Linked DNA regions of Homo sapiens: region 1 is linked to region 2. Evidence: fine-mapped expression QTL. A gene starts in region 2. The other region holds a variant in brackets. All regions are shown on one strand. Distances are between the middles of the regions. Region 1 overlaps EIF4G2 (eukaryotic translation initiation factor 4 gamma 2). Region 2 holds the start of CTR9 (CTR9 component of Paf1/RNA polymerase II complex).

The links.
Region 1: its variant is fine-mapped to the expression of CTR9 in testis (GTEx, PIP above 0.99).

What each region holds. Positions count from the first base shown.
Region 1 is chr11:10,787,007-10,797,722 of GRCh38, reverse strand. It overlaps EIF4G2 (eukaryotic translation initiation factor 4 gamma 2), which reads left to right. Exons shown (of 22, transcript NM_001418.4): 22 at 1-669. Among named protein-coding and RNA genes, the nearest start is that of SNORD97, 9.2 kb to the left of the region's middle. RefSeq lists a silencer at 4,966-5,105 and enhancers at 4,766-5,315, 5,316-5,865. The variant A/C (reference allele first, on the strand shown) is at 5,657.
Region 2 is chr11:10,745,667-10,756,382 of GRCh38, reverse strand. It overlaps CTR9 (CTR9 component of Paf1/RNA polymerase II complex), which reads right to left and starts at 5,137. Exons shown (of 25, transcript NM_014633.5): 1 at 4,926-5,137; 2 at 3,613-3,711; 3 at 1,186-1,425; 4 at 588-705. The coding sequence starts at 4,970. RefSeq lists enhancers at 5,250-5,299, 5,320-5,469, 5,268-5,768.

The DNA of each region.
Region 1 (10,716 bases), 41 kb before region 2:
ATGTTTTCACAATATTTAAAGCAGAAGCACGTCAGTTAGGATTTCCTTCTGCATAAGGTTTTTTTGTAGTGTAATGTCTTAATCATAGTCTACCATCAAATATTTTAGGAGTATCTTTAATGTTTAGATAGTATATTAGCAGCATGCAATAATTACATCATAAGTTCTCAAGCAGAGGCAGTCTATTGCAAGGACCTTCTTTGCTGCCAGTTATCATAGGCTGTTTTAAGTTAGAAAACTGAATAGCAACACTGAATACTGTAGAAATGCACTTTGCTCAGTAATACTTGAGTTGTTGCAATATTTGATTATCCATTTGGTTGTTACAGAAAAATTCTTAACTGTAATTGATGGTTGTTGCCGTAATAGTATATTGCCTGTATTTCTACCTCTAGTAATGGGCTTTATGTGCTAGATTTTAATATCCTTGAGCCTGGGCAAGTGCACAAGTCTTTTTAAAAGAAACATGGTTTACTTGCACAAAACTGATCAGTTTTGAGAGATCGTTAATGCCCTTGAAGTGGTTTTTGTGGGTGTGAAACAAATGGTGAGAATTTGAATTGGTCCCTCCTATTATAGTATTGAAATTAAGTCTACTTAATTTATCAAGTCATGTTCATGCCCTGATTTTATATACTTGTATCTATCAATAAACATTGTGATACTTGATGTAGTGATGTGTGGCTGTAAATGGCATCCATAGTCTGGGAGAATTGTCAGCTTTGTTTTTGAGGTATAGGAGACCCACCTTAGTTTGACTTAAGGACTTCCCAATTTTTGTTTTTCTGCTGTACAAGCCTGGGTTCCAGAAGGAATTTTTAGACTCTTCAAGATGAGACACAAGATTTAAGGTGTTTATTTCCTTTGAGTTACTGAAACTAACCAATATAAACGATTTTTATGATCAAAGATCACAAGTCTTATGAATTTGGAGGAACATAGCTACACATAGCAACTAAAATTTGGTGACAATTTATCTTTTGTCAGACTGAAATACATGGTGATCTCTGGATAAGCTTAGCTGTCCTGCAAGCATCATTCCCAGTAGCTGCCCCAAATGTCCAGGAAGATCCCTGCTTCCTCTGGAAAAATTCCAGTGTCCCAGTAAAATTGACTTCATTCAACTAAACCTCTGCATGTTTTCCAAAAACACACACGAAGGATTTGTCTCCAGCCCTGGAACATTCTGACAATCCTAGGATTACTTCTAACATTGGCATGGATGGGGACTCTTGAAGTGTGCTACTGGAGTCCTGGTTGATGTCAACACCTAAGAACCTGTTCTTGGTGATTGGGGAGACCCTCAAGGCAGACTATCATACTGCCGAACCCATTAGAACCTTGAAGTCAGAAGAGGCTGCCTGCACATGCTCCAGTGGGTGGGAGGCAGAACCAATCAATGTTTTTGTGTCTGTCTTATTTGGGCCAGGGAAGCTAAATCTTGCATTATGGCACTCATCTTCCCCTGAAGTTTTAACAAGTCATAAGCTTTTGGGTACTTTGAGTACAGCAAAATTTAAAGCTAAACAGATTTGTATGAACCTACCTAAATTTTAAAGGGGCTGTAAATTGTTTCTCTGCCCAACCCTCCCCACGAAGGGGAGGAAACTAATTTTTAACCTAGCAAAAGGAGCAACTGGTTAGGTGGATCAGCTAGTCAATTCTTATTGCCAGAATTTGCCTAATTCAGCCAGGGTATCAGGCTAAAGGAAGTTTTAGAACTAAACCTGGGCCTGGGTGCAGTGGCTCACGCCTGTAATCCCAGCACTTTGGGAGGCCTAAGGCGGGCGGATCACCTGAGGTCGGAGTTCAAGACCAGGCTGACCAACATGGAGAAACCCTATTTTCTTCTAGAAAAATACAAAGCTGAGTGTGGTGGTGCATGTCTACAATCCCAGTGACTCGGGAGGCTGAGGCAGGAGAATGGCTTGAACCTGGGAGGCGGAGGTTGCAGTGAGCCGAGATGGCACCATTGCACTCCAGCCTAGGCAACAAGAGCGAAACTCCGTCTCAATAAAAAATGAACTAAACCCGGTACGCAGTGGTTTGTCATTGCTTACAGAATCATGCTTTAATCTTCCCACCCCAAACATGTCAAGAGCTACTCAAAATATTCAACCCATAGAGAATGTATAATACTGCTGCTACCTTGTTCTAAAGACACCTAACAGTGTACTTTATAATCTACCATACTGTGGAATGGCAGTATCTGGGTATAACTGGGATGTACCTTGCATGATTGCCAATTTCTTTAGTATCAGCATGTAGTGACTAATCTTCATTCACTTCATGGTGACTTCAAAATAAGATTGCATGTCTTTACTGCCCCCAATTTTTTTTTCCTTTACTGCAAAATTGAAAGAGTTGTCTAATTTTCCCCATTCTGAAGCCTCAGTAGGGCTTCACTCCCCTGGTTCCCCACACCAAAACTTTCTTAGGGTCACCAGTAACTCCAATGCTATATCCAGTAGGTTTTGATCCTCCTGTAGGCAGCATTTGACAAGTTACTCATTCCTTGAAAGTGTTAACTTGTTCCCAGGACATCTTTTTCTTCTCAGTTTCCAATGGGAGATGCCTGATCTCAACACTTTTTCAGTTGTTGTCATACTCTGCATCCATTCTAGCATCAAATCATGTTGATTGCATTCCAAACATTTTAGAAATTGAAGAACTCATTTCTTCAACCACCACCCTCATTTCTTACCTAGGTACCACAGTAGCCTTAACTGGCCTCCCTGCCTAGCCCTCATCTCCATTTTGTCGTCTCAACACAGCACCACTTGGCTCAAAACCCGCCAAATGGCTTCCCACCTAGTGGGATTTTTATGTCAAAATACTTAATTTGGTCTACATCACCCCACATCTGATTTTCTTAGCCCTCTCCCCATCCTTGCCCCACAACCTGTTTCTCTGATCTAATTTCCTACTGCTGGCACTTAATCCTTCTGCTCCCACCACACTGGATTTGCTGCTCCTGGGACATGCCAAGCATCTTCTTACTTTGGAGGTTTTATGTTCCTCCTTTCTTCTGGATAACTGGATGACTGGCTTTCTCCCCCTCCTCAGGTCTTGGCTCAAATGTCACTTTTTTTTTTTTTTTTTTTTTTTTTTTTGAGACGGAGTCTCGCTTTGTTGCCCAGGCTAGAGTGCAGTGGCGCGATCTTGGCTCACTGCAAGCTCCACCTACTGGGTTCACGCCATTCTCCTGCCTCAGCCTCCTGAGTAGCTGGGACTACAGGCGCCCGCCACCATGCCCGGCTAACTTTTTGTATTTTTAGTAGACACGGGGTTTCACCGTGTTAGCCAGGATGGTCTCGATCTCCTGACCTCGTGATCCGCCCTCCTCGGCCTCCCAAAGTGCTGGAATTACAGGCGTGAGCTACCGCGCCCAGCTTCAAATGTCACTTTTATTAGTAAAGTCCTCATTGTCAATTCTGATAACCTCCTGCAGATCTTAAGGGGCAGGAAAGAAATTCATATATATATTTAAAAACTCTAAACACATCCTCATCCCTCTTTCCTTTTTGTATCTCCATGTCTCATTACATGACATACTGCATGGTTATATCTGATTCCTGCTAGAATGTGAAGAGCATGAAGTATTTGACAGTTTTTTTCACTGCTGTATTCCCAGCATCTAGAACAGTGCCCAGTGCCCGGTAAACTCAAATATTTGTTCAACCAAATCATGAATTAATAAAATTACCCTACATGGCAGGATGTGGACATAGAGGAAGGAAGTAGTGGGAAGACCTCAGACTCGAGTTGTAGATCGATCTAGGGTTAATCTCTAACACAAGCAGGGTGATCTTAGGTAAGATATTTTTTATCTGAGTCTTGATTATTTTAGAAATTATTTTAGAAAATTTAGCTTGGGCAACGTGGGGAAACCCTGTGTCTACAAAAAAAAAAAAAAAAAAGTAGAAAAATTTGCTGAGTGTGATGATGCACACCTGTAGTCTCAGCTACTCAGGAGGCTGAGGTGGGAGGATCACCTGAGCCGAGGAGGTCGAGGCTGCAGTGAGCCATGATCACGTCACTGCACTCCAGCCTGGGCAACAGAGTGAGACCCTGTCTCGAATGAATGAATGAAAATGTGGCTAACGTGCAGCTGTAGTTCCAGCTACTCTGAAGGCTGAGGTGGGAGGATTGCTTGAGCCCAAGAGTTTGAGGCTGCAGTGAACTATGATCGTGCCACTGCACTCCGGCCTGGGAGACAGAGCAAGACCCTGTCTCAAAAATTTAAAAAAAAAAAAAAAAAGAAAGAAAGAAAACAGGGTTAATACTTAAGGATTGTCATGAGAGCTAAACAAGCTAATATGTAAAAGTCACTAGGGAAAGCATCCCACATAGCAGCCCAATAGATATGAATGTCACCCTCCTTTCTAAGATTCCTCCCCAGGAGAACTGCTTCCATCTTCTGAACTAACAAGATCATTGGCTAGATATAACTAAAGGGTATAGCTCAGTCTTATTTGATCAATCAAAAGCACTTGCCAGTTGACTTTCCTCTTTCCCACTTTGTTTTTCTCCCAGCTTCTCCTCAGTCTCCTTTAAAAGCCCTCTTTTTTCACCTGGCCCCTGAATGTTGCTGTTTTGCCTCCCTCCTTCAACACTGTCACTCACTTCTGTGGATCCGATTACCAGCTATCTGCTGATGACATCTGTATCTTGAGTCCAAACCCCTTTCCAGAATGTCTAACTCGCACATCCAACCAGCCCCTGGACATATTTCTGAATGTGCCACAGCACTTCAAACTCAATATTCATCCCTAAACTTTTTGCCGCAAACCAACACTCCCTCCCTTTCTAACTCTGCAACCATAGCCTCATGCAAACCAAAAACGAATCACTTTCTCACTAGACAATTTTCCAAGCAAAGTCCTACAAGAATATGCAAGAGCCCTGGACGAGGAGACACCTGAGCACAGGGCAGAGAGTAGCGGACACAGGACATTCAAGTCCCACAGCCTGCCCTGCCCCGCCCCGCAGCCCTGCCCTTGCCCGTCCTGACCCAGGGGGAGCGCAGGAGGCTGAGCTGGACCCAGGTCCCCGACCGATCAGCAACGCTGTCCCACAGCGCCCTCTGCCGGGATGCTGGGAGACCACCCCTGGCAGGTGGGTCGGGTTGCAAGGCTCTGGCCCTTGTCCTGTACGGCCCACGCGGAGGCAAGACCGAGACCCACTGGTCACGCTCATGGAGAGGGGGAAGTGAGAATGTTGCCCTGGGCTTGGTCTCCTGTCAACGGTGCATGACACGACGATGTGACTGGTAAATGAGCAGTGACTCCTCAAGAGCTGCTCAGGTCAGCTGCACAGCATGCCGAGCCACAGAGCAGAGCGCAGGCCCCAGCTTCCCGGGTCATCAGTCTCGGAGCCTAGGCCAATCGCTGCACCTCCCCAGGCTCTATCTGACTTACCTGTGAAATTATCCTTGGTCTGCCCAGCTCTCCAGTGCGTTTCGAGGGGCCGCATCGCTAGGTATGGAACATCAGTGATGGACAGCTGTGGAACTGTTCTACAAGTCCATGCGTCTCGCAAACATGTACTGAGTACATATTTGCCAGGGGCTACTCCAGGGCCAGAGATGTAACAGTAATGAGACAGTCTTCTTCTGGAAGCAACGTTCTGGGTGATAGCAGAGAGACAGTAAATC[A/C]ACAAACGTACAGTGCCAGGCAGTAAAAAGTGCTGTATGCAGGGATGCGAGTAAGGGCTAGGGAGTGGAGTGAGTGCTGCTTGAAAGAGGGGGTTCTGGGATGGCCTCAGGAGGAGGTGGCCTTTGAGCAAAGATCTAAGAGATGCCAGGGGGTGAACTCCACAGCCATCTGGAGGAACAGCATTCCTGGCAGAGGGGAGGCCAAGCTGGAGGCCCTGAGATTGGGAACGCACCTGGCCTGTCTGAGGAACAATCTGGCCAAGCAGAGGGCAAGGGGGTTTGAGGCTGAGGAGAAGGGCGCCGGCCAGTGCAGAGAACTAGTCAGACCCAGTAAGGACTTTGGCTTTTATGCTGAGTGAGATGGGCTGCCTTTGGAGGATTGCTTTTTATCATTTGTTAATATCAATCCCTCATTAAGACCAGTGCAGTGCCTGCACTGCATCCTGAGCTCTGCTAGGACATATTATGATTATTGTAGCTAATGTTTGCCGAGGAGTTAGCATATGCCAGGCTGGACCAAATGCATCAAGGTAGTCATCCCTTGTAATCATCCCAACATCCTTGAGGCAGGTGCTTCACTATCCCCCTTCACTATCCCCATGTCTGAGCCCCAAACTGAGGCTCAGAGAAGCAAAGCACCTGCCCAAGATCTTTCATGTATTTGGCAAGTAGCTATGAACGCCTTTTCTGCATTGTATTAGGCTGTTTTCACACTGCTATAAAGAAATACCTGAGACTTGGTAATTTATTAAAAAAAAAAAAGAGGTTTAATTGACTTACAGTTCCACATGTTTGGGGAGAATTCAGGAAACTTGCAATCACGGGAGAAAGTGAAGGGCAAGTAGGCGCCTTCCTCACAAGGCAACGAGAGAGAGAGTGTGAAGGAGGAACTGTCAAGCACTTATAAAACCATCAGATCTCCTTGTGAGAACTCCCTCACTATCATGAGAACAGCATGGGGGAGACCGCCCCCAAGATCGAATCACCTCCCACCAGGTCCCTCCCTTGACACATGGGGATTATGGGGATTACAATTTGAGATGACATGAGATTTGGGTGAGGACACAGAGCCACATCATATCATGCATGCTCTTTTGAAGTACTGGGCCACACATCTATTAAGTCATGGGGTGGTGATTCAAGCCCTACACTGTAACTCAGGAGCCGGTGCTCATACCAGATACACCAAAATGCATGTTGGGGTAGGGGACAGAAACTGAAGAGAGAAAGTAAAGGACCCTTTGCAGAGGCAATGAGCTCCTCATGCTTGGAAGTGTAACCAGGGCGGAATGAGTGTAGGGAGGGGCAGGTGCTTCTGAGGGTTGGGGTGTAGGACCGGAGGTGAGGAAGAATCAGCCCCCTAATCCTTCTGTCATGGGTTGAATTATGTCCCCAGCCCCCAAAGATATATGCTGATGTCCTAACTCCAGGTACCAGTGAATGTGATCTTCCTATTTGGAAATAGGGTCTTTGCAGATGTAAGCAAGTCATTAGAGGAGGCCCTAATCTGATATAATGGTGTCCTTATAATAAGAGAAGTGGCACACAGACATGCAGGGTGAGTGCCATTTGATGACAGGGGCAGAGATTGGAGTGACGTCTCTACAAGCCAAGGACTGCGAAGGTTTGCCAGCAATGCTAGCAGCTAGGAGAGAGACATGGACAGATTATCTCTAGAGCCTTCCCATGCCCTGCTGACACCTTGATTTTGGACTTCTAGTCTCCAGAACAATGAGAGAATATGTTTTTGTTGTTCAAGACACCCTGTTTGTGCTACTTCATTACGGTAGTCCTAGAAACTAATACATTGCCCCCAACCCCAGTACCATCACTTCCATCCAGGGCCACCGTGCCCTCTAGCTCTGTCCCTTCCTCTCTCCTCCCCTGAACCCACCAGCTGCTTCACAACTCAGCTAGGTACAGAAAGGTGAGGGAAGAGCTTGGACGAACCAGTAAATAAAATGAGTGAATGAATGAGCAGTGGAGCTCTATTTTGTTCTGAGAAAAATTCTTTGAAGAAAATTAGTAATCTACTTTAGTACTAAAAAATTAGAAAATAAGCCAAAAGAAAAGATATAAAGCTAAGCCTATTAAAATTTTTCATAATTTGGGGTGAGGTGACTTTTCTTTTCTTTGCTTTGCTTCTTTTTTTTTTTTTTTTTTTTTTTTTTTTTTTTAGAGTCTCCCTCTTTCTTCTAGGCTGGAGTGCAATGGCATGATCTCGGCTCACTGCAACCTCCACCTCCCGGGTTCAAGCAATTCTCCCTGCCTCAGCCTCCCGAGTAGCTGGGATTACAGGCGCCTGCCACAACGCCCGGCCAATTTTTGTATTTTTTAGTAGAGACAGGGTTTTGCCATGTTGGTCAGGCTGGTCTTGAACTCCTGACCTCAGGTGATCTGCCCGCCTCAGCCTCCCAAAGTGCTGGGATTACAGGCGTGAGTCACCGTGCCCGGCCTAGGGTGACGTGACTTTTCTAAGCACGTTACTCGGGAAAGTTCCAGATTCTGTAGGGCCTGAAGTTTACATAATTTGGCAGGGGTGGTGGAGGTCTCTTTAGGAAAAAGAAAACAAAATCACAAATGAAAAATTAGGTGCAGCCTTGGAAGAGGCCCAGGCAAGTGAGGGACCCTGATGCCTAAGCTTTAACTTCATGGAACATCTATCTCTTTGTGAAAAAAATATACATATCCAGAAACGATGAAGGGAAATGTTGACAGATTTGCCTATTAATCTGTCCCAAAATGTTATAAAGGATAAATTAAAATATTTGCATGTGCACAATCAAGGGTTAACCACAAAAAGCTCTTTAAAAAATCAGTGGGAAAAAAAGACTAACCTTTTTGAACTCTGACTATATTATTCTCAGAATAGTCCTGGGATGTAGACATTGTTATCCCAATTTAAACAGTAGGAAATTGAAGCTGAGGGGGATGGAGCCATTGTTCAAAGTCACATCATTTGTCAGAGGAAGAGCTAGGATTTAGAGTTCGAATAACTCTAAAGTCCGCATGTTTTCTATTACACGGCAGTCAAAATTGGAGCTGATTTCCAAAGATGGGGAAAATAAAACAAAATGTGGCAAACTATAAATACCTGCAGGTTTTGTTTTGTTTTGCTTTTGTTTTGTTTGAAGACAGGGTCTCATTCTGTCGCTCAGGCTGGAGAGCAGTGGCACAATCTCAGCTTACTGAAGCCTCAACCTCTTGGGGTCAAATGATTCTCCTACCTCAGCCTCTCAAGTTGCTGGGACTACAGGTGGGCCACCATGCCCGGCTAATTTTTTGTAGAGACAGGGTTTCACCATGTTGCCTAGGGTGGTCTGGAACTCCTGGGCTCAAGTGATCCACCTCCCTCAGATTCCCAAAGTGCTGGGATTAGAGGCGTGTTTCACTGTGCCTAGCCAATACCTGCAGTTTTTATCCTCTTGAAAAAAAGCCTGACATTTTCGCTCTAACAATTTTTTCTTCTTCTTTTTTTTTTTTGTAGAGAAACATCTTCACTATGTTGAGTCTTCCAGTCCATGAACATGATATATCTCTTAATTTAAGACTTTCTTTTTTTTTTTTTTTTTTGAGACAGGGTCTCACTTTGTCACCCAGGCTGTAGTGCAGTGGTGCCATCTCAGCTCACCGCAACCTCTGCTTCCCAGGCTCAAGTGATCCTCCTGCCTCAGCCCCCAAGTAGCTGGGACTACAGGCACACGCCACCACATCTGGCTAACTTTTTGTATTCTTTGTAGAGATGGGATTTCGCCATGTTACCCAGGCTGGTCTTGAACTCCTGAGCTCAAGCGATCCTCCCACCTCGACCTCCCAAAATGCTGGGATTACAGGTGTGAGCCACTGTGCCCAGCCTGAGTCTTCTTTGATATTGTTTTCATCATTGTGTAATTTTTAGAATACATATCTTATACATGTGTTGTTAGTTTTGTTTATGTTTTTTACTTTTATTACTTTTAATTGACACACGATAATTGCCTGACAATTTCCAATTACATGAGGCCCTGTCAATTACATTTGTTTGGACAATAATCTACAGTTTGGGGATGACACATTAACCTGAAGTGATCCCAATCAATAGCTAGTTTTTGATGTTTATGGAGGCCTTCGAGAGGCTTGGTGTCAAAGAAATTGAATACAGACTTAATTGTTATTCCTGGGGACACGGTTGTAAAATCTCAAGAGTTTGCAAAAGTTATAAACAAGCATTTTAAAGATTGCTTTAAAAAGTGGTACATTAGCCTGGGCACAGTGGCTCAAGCCTGAAATCTCACTGCTTTGGGAGGCTGAGGCAGGAGATCACTTGAAGCCAGGGGTTTGAGACCAGCCTGGGCAACACGGTGAGACCCTGTCTCTCCAAAAATTTTAAAAATTAGCCAGGCACAATGCTGTATTCCTGTAGTCCTAGCTGGTAGGGAGGGGAGGCAGGAGGATTGCTTGAGCCCAGGAGGTCGAAGCTGCAGTAAGCAATGATCTGACTATTGCACCCCAGCCTGGCTGACAGAGCGAGAACCTCTCTCACACAAAAAAGAAAGAGCAGTACATCAAATGAAGATGGGAAAAGCCACCTACGGGACAAATGGGAAGGCCAGTTGTTGTTCTAATGCGATGCAGAGGAGTGCTGGCAGCTCAGGACAACACATTCAGCCACAGGGCCATGGACTCTCAAGCCTGGACCTCAAACAACACGATGGGTGGGAAGGCAACGTTCTCCTGAAAACTGTTAGATGATTCCGAAAGTGGCTCAAGTACAATGGACAAAGATTCTGTGATAAATTTGAGTGAAATTATTGTATGGAATATGAATGGAGGAAAGCACTTGTTCTCAACATTTTATGAATGTGTGATTTAAACACATTTTAAATTTAATAAGTATTATTAGTAGACATTGAACTATTTCATCTACATCCCCAAAGTTTGTAAGTTTAAGTTAGTGAAAAATCTTTTGGGCAGACAGAGAACCTTTACAGTGGGCATGGGGTCACGTTATATTCAGGACACCTTATACTCAGGCATCTATGATATTTGAAGCTCAAGACACAGCTATTGGCCAGGCGTGG
Region 2 (10,716 bases):
AAATAACTAATAGGTACTAGGCTTAATACCTAAGTGATGAAATAACCTGCACAACAAACCCCCATGACCAAGTTTACCTATGTAACAAACCTGCACTTGTACCACTGAACTTCAATAAAAGTTTAAAAAATGTTATAAAGTAATAATTGAAATAACTTTAAGTTGTCTAAGTAGAGATTGTTTATTGGCTCTTCAGAAGTGTATAACCAATTACTCTTTTTTGAAAAAATTATTTTTTGTAGAGATGGGGTCTTGCTATGTTGCCCCAGCTCGTCTTGAACTCCTGGCCTCAAGTGATCCTCCTGCCTCAGTCTCTCAAAGCGCTGGGATTACAGGTATAACGAGACAGGGTCTCAAAGTGCTGAGATTATACCATGCCTGGCCTAAATAATAAATTATTCTTAACTGGTATATATTTTATTTCTACAATTTCAACAATATTTGTTGTAGGTAATTTCATTTGTAACAACATAAAGCTCTTCTACTTTGCTGTCTAGCTGAGTTATTAAGGAGCTATTACCAAGAGATATATTCTAGGCATATGCTGAAAACAACTGTTTCCTAACATGTTGCCAAAGACCACTTACCAAGAAGGGCTGGAATATTATTTGGAGACTGATTGAGTACAAAATGAAACTGTGCATCAGCTTGATCCATTTTGTCACCCTCAAGTAGGCAGAAGCAGGCTCTTCCCAACAAATGGTTCTATGAAGTAATGTATTATCTTAGATTTTACCCCTATATACCATGAACATGTAACACTAAAGTGAAAACCAAATAGGAAGGAGGTGGAGCACAGTGCAAATTCCCCTATCAAATGTAACGTGCTTAAGCTACTAACAAGCAATTCTTAATTACAAAATAAGAAATTATCCTGAAATGTAAGTCTTCTGTGCCAATAACAACAACCAAAAGAAAAATTTAAATTCCTTAAAATATCCTTGAAATTCACCTGGAGATAATAAAATTACTGGAGCAAGTTTTATGTACTACATTTGTCCATATTACTTAAACAGTACAAAAACCAAAGCATTCCGATTTTAATGAGGAACCTTTCTTCTTTTTGACTCTATCAACCATGTTACTTGAAGAAAAACTCTTTCAAAAAATCTGCTATCACACACATTTTGCTTTCATGTGCTTTTCTCCCTTCATAAATGGAAAGAAATTTGACTTTATTTTTACCTGATCATACATAATAATTTTATCGGCCATTGTATACAACAAGGTGGCCTGTGTAATAAGATCCTTTTTATTGTCCTTATTCTTTTCTTTCCGAGCCTGTTGTACATAATACGCTGCCAATGTATCCAAGCAAGTCATCTGGTCTTTTTCATGGTCTCTATAGTCCAAATTGCCATCTATACGTGCTGCTTCCAACAATTTTACAAACTCTTCTGTTTTTCCTTGCTTGTAGTATTCCAGCTATAAGGTAATGAAACAAATTAGAATCACTAAAGCATATGTCCATATAAAAAGTTGTACACAAATGTTTACAGCAGCTTTATTTGTAATAACAAAAAACTGGAAACAATCAAAATGTTGATTAACAGGTGAATGGATAAACAAGCTGTGGTGTATCCATAAAATGGATACTATCCTACAATGAAAAGGAATGAACTACTGATACATGCTACAACATGGATAAATCTCAAAATAATTATGCTGAATGAAAGAAATCAGACCAAAAAAAGAGTACATATTGTGTGATTCCATTTATATAAAACTCTAGAAAATGTAAAACAATCTCTAGTGTCAAAAAGCAGACCAGTGGTTGTCTGGCACAGGGATTAGGGGTGGGGTGGGGGACTTGTGGGGAGTGGTACAGAGGACACTTTCAGAAGGTGATGAATGTATTCATTAATCTTGATTGTGGTGATGGTTTCACAGGTATATACAGATGATAAAACTTATCAAATGGTAAATGTCAAATATGTGCAGTTTATTATAAATCCATTAGACTTTAATAAAACTGTTTAAAAAACTGGAATCATTCACAATGTTCCCAATCTGCTGCTTATCTAGTTGATTTCTAACTAAAATTTTCAGATAAGTAGAGCCTAAGAGAGAAAACAATAGTGAAAGATATGAAGAATTCTAAATAGAAAACTTGGGTTCTGGTTCTAGATCTACCAAAAATTATCTGTGATTTGGGCCTGTTTAACAACTTCTCTAGGCATCTGTTTGACTTATAAATAATAAAAGAAATATCCACTAGGTGTGGTGGTATGTACCTGTAATCTACTACTTGGGATGCTGTAGTGGCAGGATGGCTTGAGCCCAGGAGTTTGAGTCTAGCCTGGGCAAAATAGAGAGACTCTGTCTCTATGTGGAATATCCACCACTTATTAACCACTGACTATTGGTCACATACCATGAAAGGAATTTCATACACATATTCTCTAATCTGTACAACCACTCTATGAGGTAGATGCTAACATCTCTATATTTTAAATGAGGACATATGCTCAGAAGTTAGATCATTTGTCTAAGGTCACATAGCTAGTTAGCAGCCATGCCGGGACTTGATCTAACCCCAAAGCCTACATTCTTTTCCCTGTAAAAATCTATATCCCACAATGTGTCATTAATTTATTCTACTACAGGTGCCATGCTAATCCTCCAATATTCTAATTTTTGTTTAAGTGCTGTTAAGGAGGGCATATGTACTTAAAAATATATATATATATAATATATATTATATATACATCTAAATTACCATCTGGTTTTAAAAAAAATGTGTGTGACAAGGAGGCTTGGTCTCCATGGAATAAGAAAAGTTGGCACTTCAAGTCAAGAAGGCACTGCTTGTCACTGAAAATACTTCTCTGTAAATCCACATCTAAAAGGAAGAAACTCTTAGAGCAGTCTTGAGCACTGGATATAAGCCCAATTCCAGACCTATTTCTCTGACTCTTCAAGACAATATTAGGAGCCTCTTCTGTATGTTTGTATGAAAGCAATGTGGCATATCTACTTAGGAATAATGACTGTAACATTTATATTACCTATTCCTATAAAAAGAAAACATCATTATGCAGCTGATGCTGGCAAGTAGAGGATATAGAATTTTAGGGTTTCTGATTGGATTTTCTTGAGAATCTCCAGTAAGATTCACATTGAAGGAGACTAAATAGGACAAAAAACATAAGTCTGAGATAAACTTCACCCAAAAGAACTTTTGTGATTTTGGGTGAAGTGATTTTCCCAGAACCTAATCACATTCTAGAATATTTTAAGGGAAGTGTTTTGTTGTTATAGGAAACAATGTTAAGCAGCAATGTTCACACAGAAGCACTTCGCTTCTTTTCAGCTTATCTATAAACCATAAGCCAGCCTTCACTGAACAAGCACTAAATAATAAAATATTCAATATAGAGTACTACTTAAATGAATTTTGCCTTTACCAACATATACTAATTCACCAGTAGAGCAGCATATCATTTAGGAAAACGGCCTTATTGTTCCATAAATTATTAACACAATTAACTTCCATACACATGGTATAACTAATCTACCATGCAGCCAAGCTGGCTATTACTATATCTGAAAACAGAAACTACATATTTTCCTAGTCAACAAATAAAAAATATTTGCTACATGAATACTGACCGCCAAAGCAATCCATATGTGCAGTTGTGTGTGTTCCTGTTTCAGAATACTGATAACTTCATCTCCCTCCGGTAACTGATCGAAGTCAAGTTCAATGACCTAAAATACAAAAGGTAGGTCTTAACTCTTATTCCACTTTAAAATTCACATTTCATCTTTGCTGCTTTTCGTGAATATAATCAACATGCATATACATAGAGTACGTGTTCACTTTCAATACGGTTGAGCTAATCCATGTTAATGTTTAAGGAGCACATGACGAATAGGTTATACTATAATAAAGTTAAAGCACAGAGAAGCAAACAAACCCTGCTACTTGTCCCCAGATCACTGGAACTATAAAATACTAGAAATGGTCTGCTTACTAAAAAATAACAAAACAAAATCCTACTTAACATAGAATCCAAGTAAAGTGCAGATAAGCACCCTAGAGACTATTATGCCATAGGTCTGACTCCTTGAGATGCATGACCCTACAAGCCATGCAAAGTTGAATGCCACTGCACACATTAATCATGGAGGTGGCACCTGCGTGTAACAGACAGTCCTGACTGTAAGCACAAAAATAATAATAGGAAAATGTCCTGGAATTAGAGGTAATGACTATACAACTTTGCGAATACACTAAAAACCACTGAATTTTATACCTCAATATTATATCTCAAACAAAAAAAATAAAAATAAAAGATATACAAGAAGACTGAACATCAAAGCTGAGAGCTTTACTCAGACAAGCCACAGGCCACCCATGAATGAGACATAGGTAAGCGAGAGGAGGTTAAATTTTATCAGCACACAGGGGCGGCTAAATCTTGGGATATCTCGTTGAAGGAGAGTTGGTGTAGAGAACACAGCGCACCATGACAGACTCGAGTTTCTAAGGGAGAAGAGGCGACCTCCTATATATTCCCAGGGAAAGATCTCGAGTTTGAGCAGCAAGCATATAAACCCCGGAAACATCAGCGCCCACCTCTGTAATCTGCGAGGTGTTTTACAGTTTATCGGGTACTCTCACACCTCTGCTCCCGTGGGTTGGTTAGGAAAAGAGTAGCGCACTGTCAAATTCGAACAGGCTGGAGAGGAACTTTCAAGAACTCCTTCTCCGAGTGGCCCTGAGGCTGCAGAGACGCGGTGCCCCCAGCCTGAGAGGGCACAGGGGCTGAAGAAGATGATGATCAGACCTTGGCCAGGTATTTCGATCAGGGCTCTTAGGGAAGGAGGATGCTCTCGCTTCAGAAACGAAGTCGAGCGAAGTCGGTGGGGGCGATCGTACAAGTTCATGGCCCCCACCCGCCTCCATACACGACACTTACCTCGTCAGTGTCCCGGAGGGGAATCTCGATGGAGCCCCGCGACATGATGGGGTCAAAAGGCGAGCAAGTGTCTCGCCCCGCCGCTCCGCAGCCGGTAGTCTCCGCTTCAGGCTAATCCAGAGGTGAGTGACGGCTCCGGCTCTGGTCTTGACTGCCGCCCCGCGGCGCCGCTGGAGCTCTGGCTTCTCCTTCCCGTCAGCCGCTTAAACAACGAGCAGCGGACGGCGGACGGCCACTTCCGGCGACCCCGCCCCCTGTCCCGGAAGCACTCCCGGGGGAGCGTGCCCTACGCGAGCTCAGCTTGTGGCTCCGGTGTTTCCGTTTTGGGGTTGGCGGCTCCGAAGCTTTTGTTGGCGTGTCGGCTGTAGGGTGCCCCGAGAGCCTGCAGGACCTTCGGAACCATCTGGCGTCTGACTCTCCTCAGCGCTGGCGCGGCCCCGAATGAAAACTTGGAAGGCGTAGCCGCTTGGTCCCGCGGTGGGCGGGGCCCCTGCCTGACGTGGACCTCTCGGGATGGGCCTGGCCAATCCTGTTTTCTTCCCAAGATTGTTAGGGATAATTCAGTCATTCGTTTCGCAACCCATCTTTTGGCCCCCGTTAGGTGTAAGTCATACCTGTGATACCTTTGTGACTAGTTTAAATAAAAAAATTTACAATTAATTCGGTAATCATTGTGATAATTCATGTCTTATTTTTTTTAGTTCTTCGAAGCATGTAAGAAGATCTAGTATATTTGTGATTTAAGTAAAATTGCAGATGAGGCCAGGCGCGGTGGCTCACGCCTGTAATCCCAGCACTTTGGGAGGCCAAGGCGGGCGGATCATCTGAGGTCAGGAGTTCGAGACCAGCCTGACCAACATGGTGAAAACCCGTCTATACTAAAAATACAAAAATTAGCCCGGCGCGGTGGTGGGCGCCTGTAATCCCAGCTACCAGGGAGACTGAAACAGGAGACTCGCTTGAACCCGGGAGACGGAGGTTGCGCTGAGCCGAGATCAGCCACTGCGCTCCAGACTGGGGATCGATCGAGACTCCACCTCAAAAAAAAAAAAAAGAGGAAATTAATTTTAGTAATATATTTTATTTAACGTAATATATCCAAAATCTCATTTCAACATGTAGTCAATATAAAAATTCAGATAATTTTTACATTTTTTTATACTGAGTCTTGAAAATTCGATATGTATTTCACATGCATACACTGATCTCAGTTGCCTGATTTTAATTGGAAATATTGGATCTGTGTTTAGATTTTATAAAGTTTGCAGTTGAAAAAATAGGTTCACACACTTTAGTTTTTCCAAAATTTAAATTAAAAAAATTCCTAATTAAATTCCTTAATTGGATTAGTCATATTTCAAGTGTTCAATAGCCACATGTGGTTAGTGAATACTGCATTGGATGGCATCAGACAGTATTTCCCAGAAATACTGTTTAATATATTTTAAAGTTTATAAAGTAAGCATTAAACAAAAGTACACATAGTGGTGATTGTTATTCTCCATGCCCAAAAGCCTCCCTGATATTAAAAACTCTATTGATAGGTTTGGTTTTTCAGTTATTCGCATCCAAAGGCATCATACCTGATAATGCAGAGTGCTATGATTGAATAGTTGGGGCACTCAGTTTAGAGTGGGATTTGGAGGAAGTGACATTTAAGTTGCATCTGGGAAAATGAGTAAGGTTTGGCAGGTAAAGTATGTAGGGGAATGTGTACCAGACAGAGGGGACGGCATGTTGGGGAAGAGCTTTGAGAACCTGCAAGAAGGTCATGTGACTAGAATGTAGAAAATGAGGGGGAGAGTGGCATGAGTTGAAGCTGATATAAGAAGTACCCAGACATGCTGGGGTTTATGCTTATAAAGCAAAACTGACATCTTGTCCTGTTTCCAAAATGAGTGAGTGTACATATTACTTCCCACAGGAAAAACAAAATACTTTGTGTTCTGAAATAAACCGTGAAACAACAGTATCACACTCTGTAGTCTCCAAAGTGAACAAAACTTTCAGCATTTCCCATATATTACTGACTCTCTTACAGTTTAATTGCTGACTTTTGTACTGCTACAGTCTGAAGATATGTGGGAGCTTGGGGTCATATGGCAATCATATGAGAAAATTGCTCTTTTCTCACCATGAAGCAACTAACTGTAAACCTTGGTGTGTGTTCATTTGATGTATCAGTCCTTCTAAAGCGTAAATTCACCTGTATACTTTTGCAAGTGTTTTTGTAAGTAAACTTTTTTTCTAAATGCTTTTGTCCTTCAGAATTTCTTTTGACTTAGTATATATTAATGATTTGGGGTTTTATCTTACATGCAAAGTGATTGAAATGCTTTAAGTGATGTGTATGTGTCAATGAGAGGGAGAAAGAATAAAAGAGAATTGGTTTTGGCCAGGCACGGTGGCTCATGCCTGTAATCCCAGTACTTTGGGTGGCCGAGGTGGCCTATCACATGAGTTTAAGAATTCAAGACCAGTCTGGGCAACATGGTGAAATTTGTCTCTACTAAAGATACAAAAATTAGCTGGGTGTGGTGGTGCACGCCTGTTATCCCAGCTACTCAGGAGGCTGAGGCATGAGAATCACTTGAGCCCCAGAGGCGGAGGTGAAGGTTGCAGTGAGCCAAGATCATGCCGGTGCACTCCAGCCTGGGCGACAGAGTGAGACTCTGTCTGAAAAAAAAAAAAAAGAATTGGTTTTAAAAGATTGTTCTGGCTATGTTGTGAAAGATGGATTGGAAAGTGTCTCGAGAGGATGTGGGCAGACCACTTAGGAAACTGCTGTCTAGGTCACAGATGATAAATAGGAATAGGTTTAAGACAGTGGAGGTGGAGAGAAGTGGATGGATTTAAGATTATCATCTATCTATCTGTCTATCAATCATCTGTTGATACCTTAGTCACTAGGACTTGCCAATGTATTGGATATAGGCCGGGGTCACTGAAAAAGTAGTGTCAAGAAGGACGTCCAGTTTCTGGCATGAACAACTGGGTGAATGATGTGTCATTTCCTAAAATAGGAAAGATTAGTGGAGGAGCACATTTGGGCAAGGGTAGACCACTAGTTGGATTTCACATGTGTTGTTTGTAGTTTGTACTGTCTCTGCGACAGCCAGATGCAGATTTCAGATAGTCTAAATTACAGATCTGTAATTTAGAAGACAGTTTCTAACCTGGAGAAATAGGTCTGAGAGCTATTGGCATAAAGATGAATTTTAAAACTATGGGATTAAATTAGATTAGATAACCTAGGGAGAGAATGGAGAGTGACAAGAGAAGGGCCTAGTTCCCAGCCTGAGGAATTCTAGCACACAGAGGGTGTGAAGAGGAAGGTGGCCTGCAAGGAATCAGCAAGGACAATGAAGAGAGAATCACCTATCAGGGGCCTGGCAACAATTGAGACTTAAACTACACTCTTGGTACCAGGTTGCTACAAGCAGCCTTTTGTTTTTCCCTAAATGTAGCAGGCACTGATGAAATTAGATGTTTTAAAGCTGTAGAACCAGTTTTGGAGCAATTTCAAAGATTTTATTTCAACTGGCATGATTGCATAATGTCCATTCACAAAACACCATGCCCCATGTTGGGCCTGAGTGCACCAGATCAAGGCAAAGCAGTTAGTGTATTTGGCCAGTGTGGGTTTTGTTGAGTACATGTTCTAAATAGATTGTTAAGATTCTTACTTTTATGTTGTTGGTATTGCAGTTGTCTGTAATGTTGGTAAATATATACATTTAGCCAATCTGAAGAGTAAGTTATTTTATATGTTGATAAAATATGCTAATAATTAATTTATTATTTTTGAGGCAGGGTCTCACTCTGTCATGCAGGATGGAGTACGGTGGCACCATCACAGCTCATTGCAGCCTCAAACTCCTGGGCTCAAGCAATTTCCTGCTTCAGCCTCCCAAGCAGCTGGGATTATAAGCAGACACTACCACATCTGGCGAAATATGCTAATTATTAAAAAGGAGTGAAGAAAGTTGATCTTAACAAATTAAATATACATATAATTTGTTATATATAATTATGTGTGTATATATTATATATATATTATATATAATATAAATATTATATTTTATATATAATATAAATATATTTTATATAATATATATTATATATAATATATAATATATATTATATAAATATATAAATATATTATATATAATATATAAAATATTATATATAATTATATAAATATATAATATATATTATATATAATTATATAAATATATAATATACTATATAAATATATAATTATATAAATATAATTAATTATATAAATATATAATATATTATATATATATATATTTTTTTTAGACAGGGTCTCACTCTGTCACCCAGGCTGGAGGGCAGTGATGTGGTCATGACTCATTGCAGGCTTGACCTCCCTGGGCTCAGGTGATCCTCCAGCCTCTGCCTCCCAAAGTGCTGGAATTACAGGCATGAGCCACCACGCTCAACCTAAATAATATTTTAGATCTTAAGTTAGATATCTTTTAAATAGCAGGACACAAATTGAAGTGTTTTAAGTGTTTTAAGTAGTTTGTATAAATTATTAAGAAACAATACGAAGCTATGTTAGTTTGCTGGGGCTAGGGCTCCCATAACAAAGTACACAGACTGGATGACTTAAACAATAGAAATGTATTTTCTGACAATTCTGTAGGCTGGAAGTGAGAGTCCAAGGCATTGGCAGGTTTGGTTTCTCCTGAGGCCTCTTTCCCTGGCTCGTATATGGCCGTCTTCTCTCTGTGGCTTCCCATGTTCTTCACTCTCTCTGAGTTTAAATCCTAATCTCCTCTTCCTATAAAAACTTCAGTCATTGAATTAGGGCTCACCCTAATGACTTTATTTTAATTTAATGACCTCTCTAAAGATCCTGTCTCTAAATATAGTCACATTCTGAGGTACTGGGAGTTAGGACTTCCATAAATGAATTTTGAGGGGAACACAGTACGGCCTGTAGCAGAGGCCTATCAGCAGGACACATCTCTGCAGCTGAATTATTTTTATTATTTTCCTTTTTAAAAAAAGTTCAATAGTTTTGGGGGAACAGGTGTTTTTTGTTATGTGGATAAATTTTTTAGTGTTGATTCTGGAGATTTTGGTGCAACTGTCACCCAAGCAGTGTACACTGTACCCAATGTGTAGTCTTTTGTCTCTCACCCCTCCACCCTACTCCCACCCCCGAGTCCCCAAAGCCCATCATATCATTCTTAGGCCTTTGTGTCCTCATAGCTTAGCTCCCACTTATAAGTGAGAACATATGACGTTTGGTTTTCCATTCCTGAGTTACTTCACTTAGAATAATGGTCTCTAACTCCATCCAGGTTGCTGTGAATGCCATTATTTCATTCCTTTTTATGGCTGAGTATCCCCTGTTGTTGCAGCTGAATTTTTAAATTATACTTTTCCCCATTAATTATTAAAATAAGGCTTGTTTATGAAATATTAGGATAAATCATCATTAGGCAAAAGTTTTAGGGTTATAATTTATCATTACAGTTGCCTGGGCAGTTGTCTTAGAATACTCTGTGTCATAGTTTCCTCTGGGGTTTCAATAAATATTCATCTCCAAAACATCACTATAGTTTCAGGAATTTAAAATTACATAAAATGCTCCTTTAGGTAAGAACTGGGAATAAAGGTCAACACACCTAATTTGACTGTCAGTAAAACACTCTGATAGAAATCTTAGTTCTGGCAGATTTGAATAACCAGAAAACCCTCCTGCTAAAAACACCTAGATTTGCAGGTCTGAAAACACACACACACACACACACAC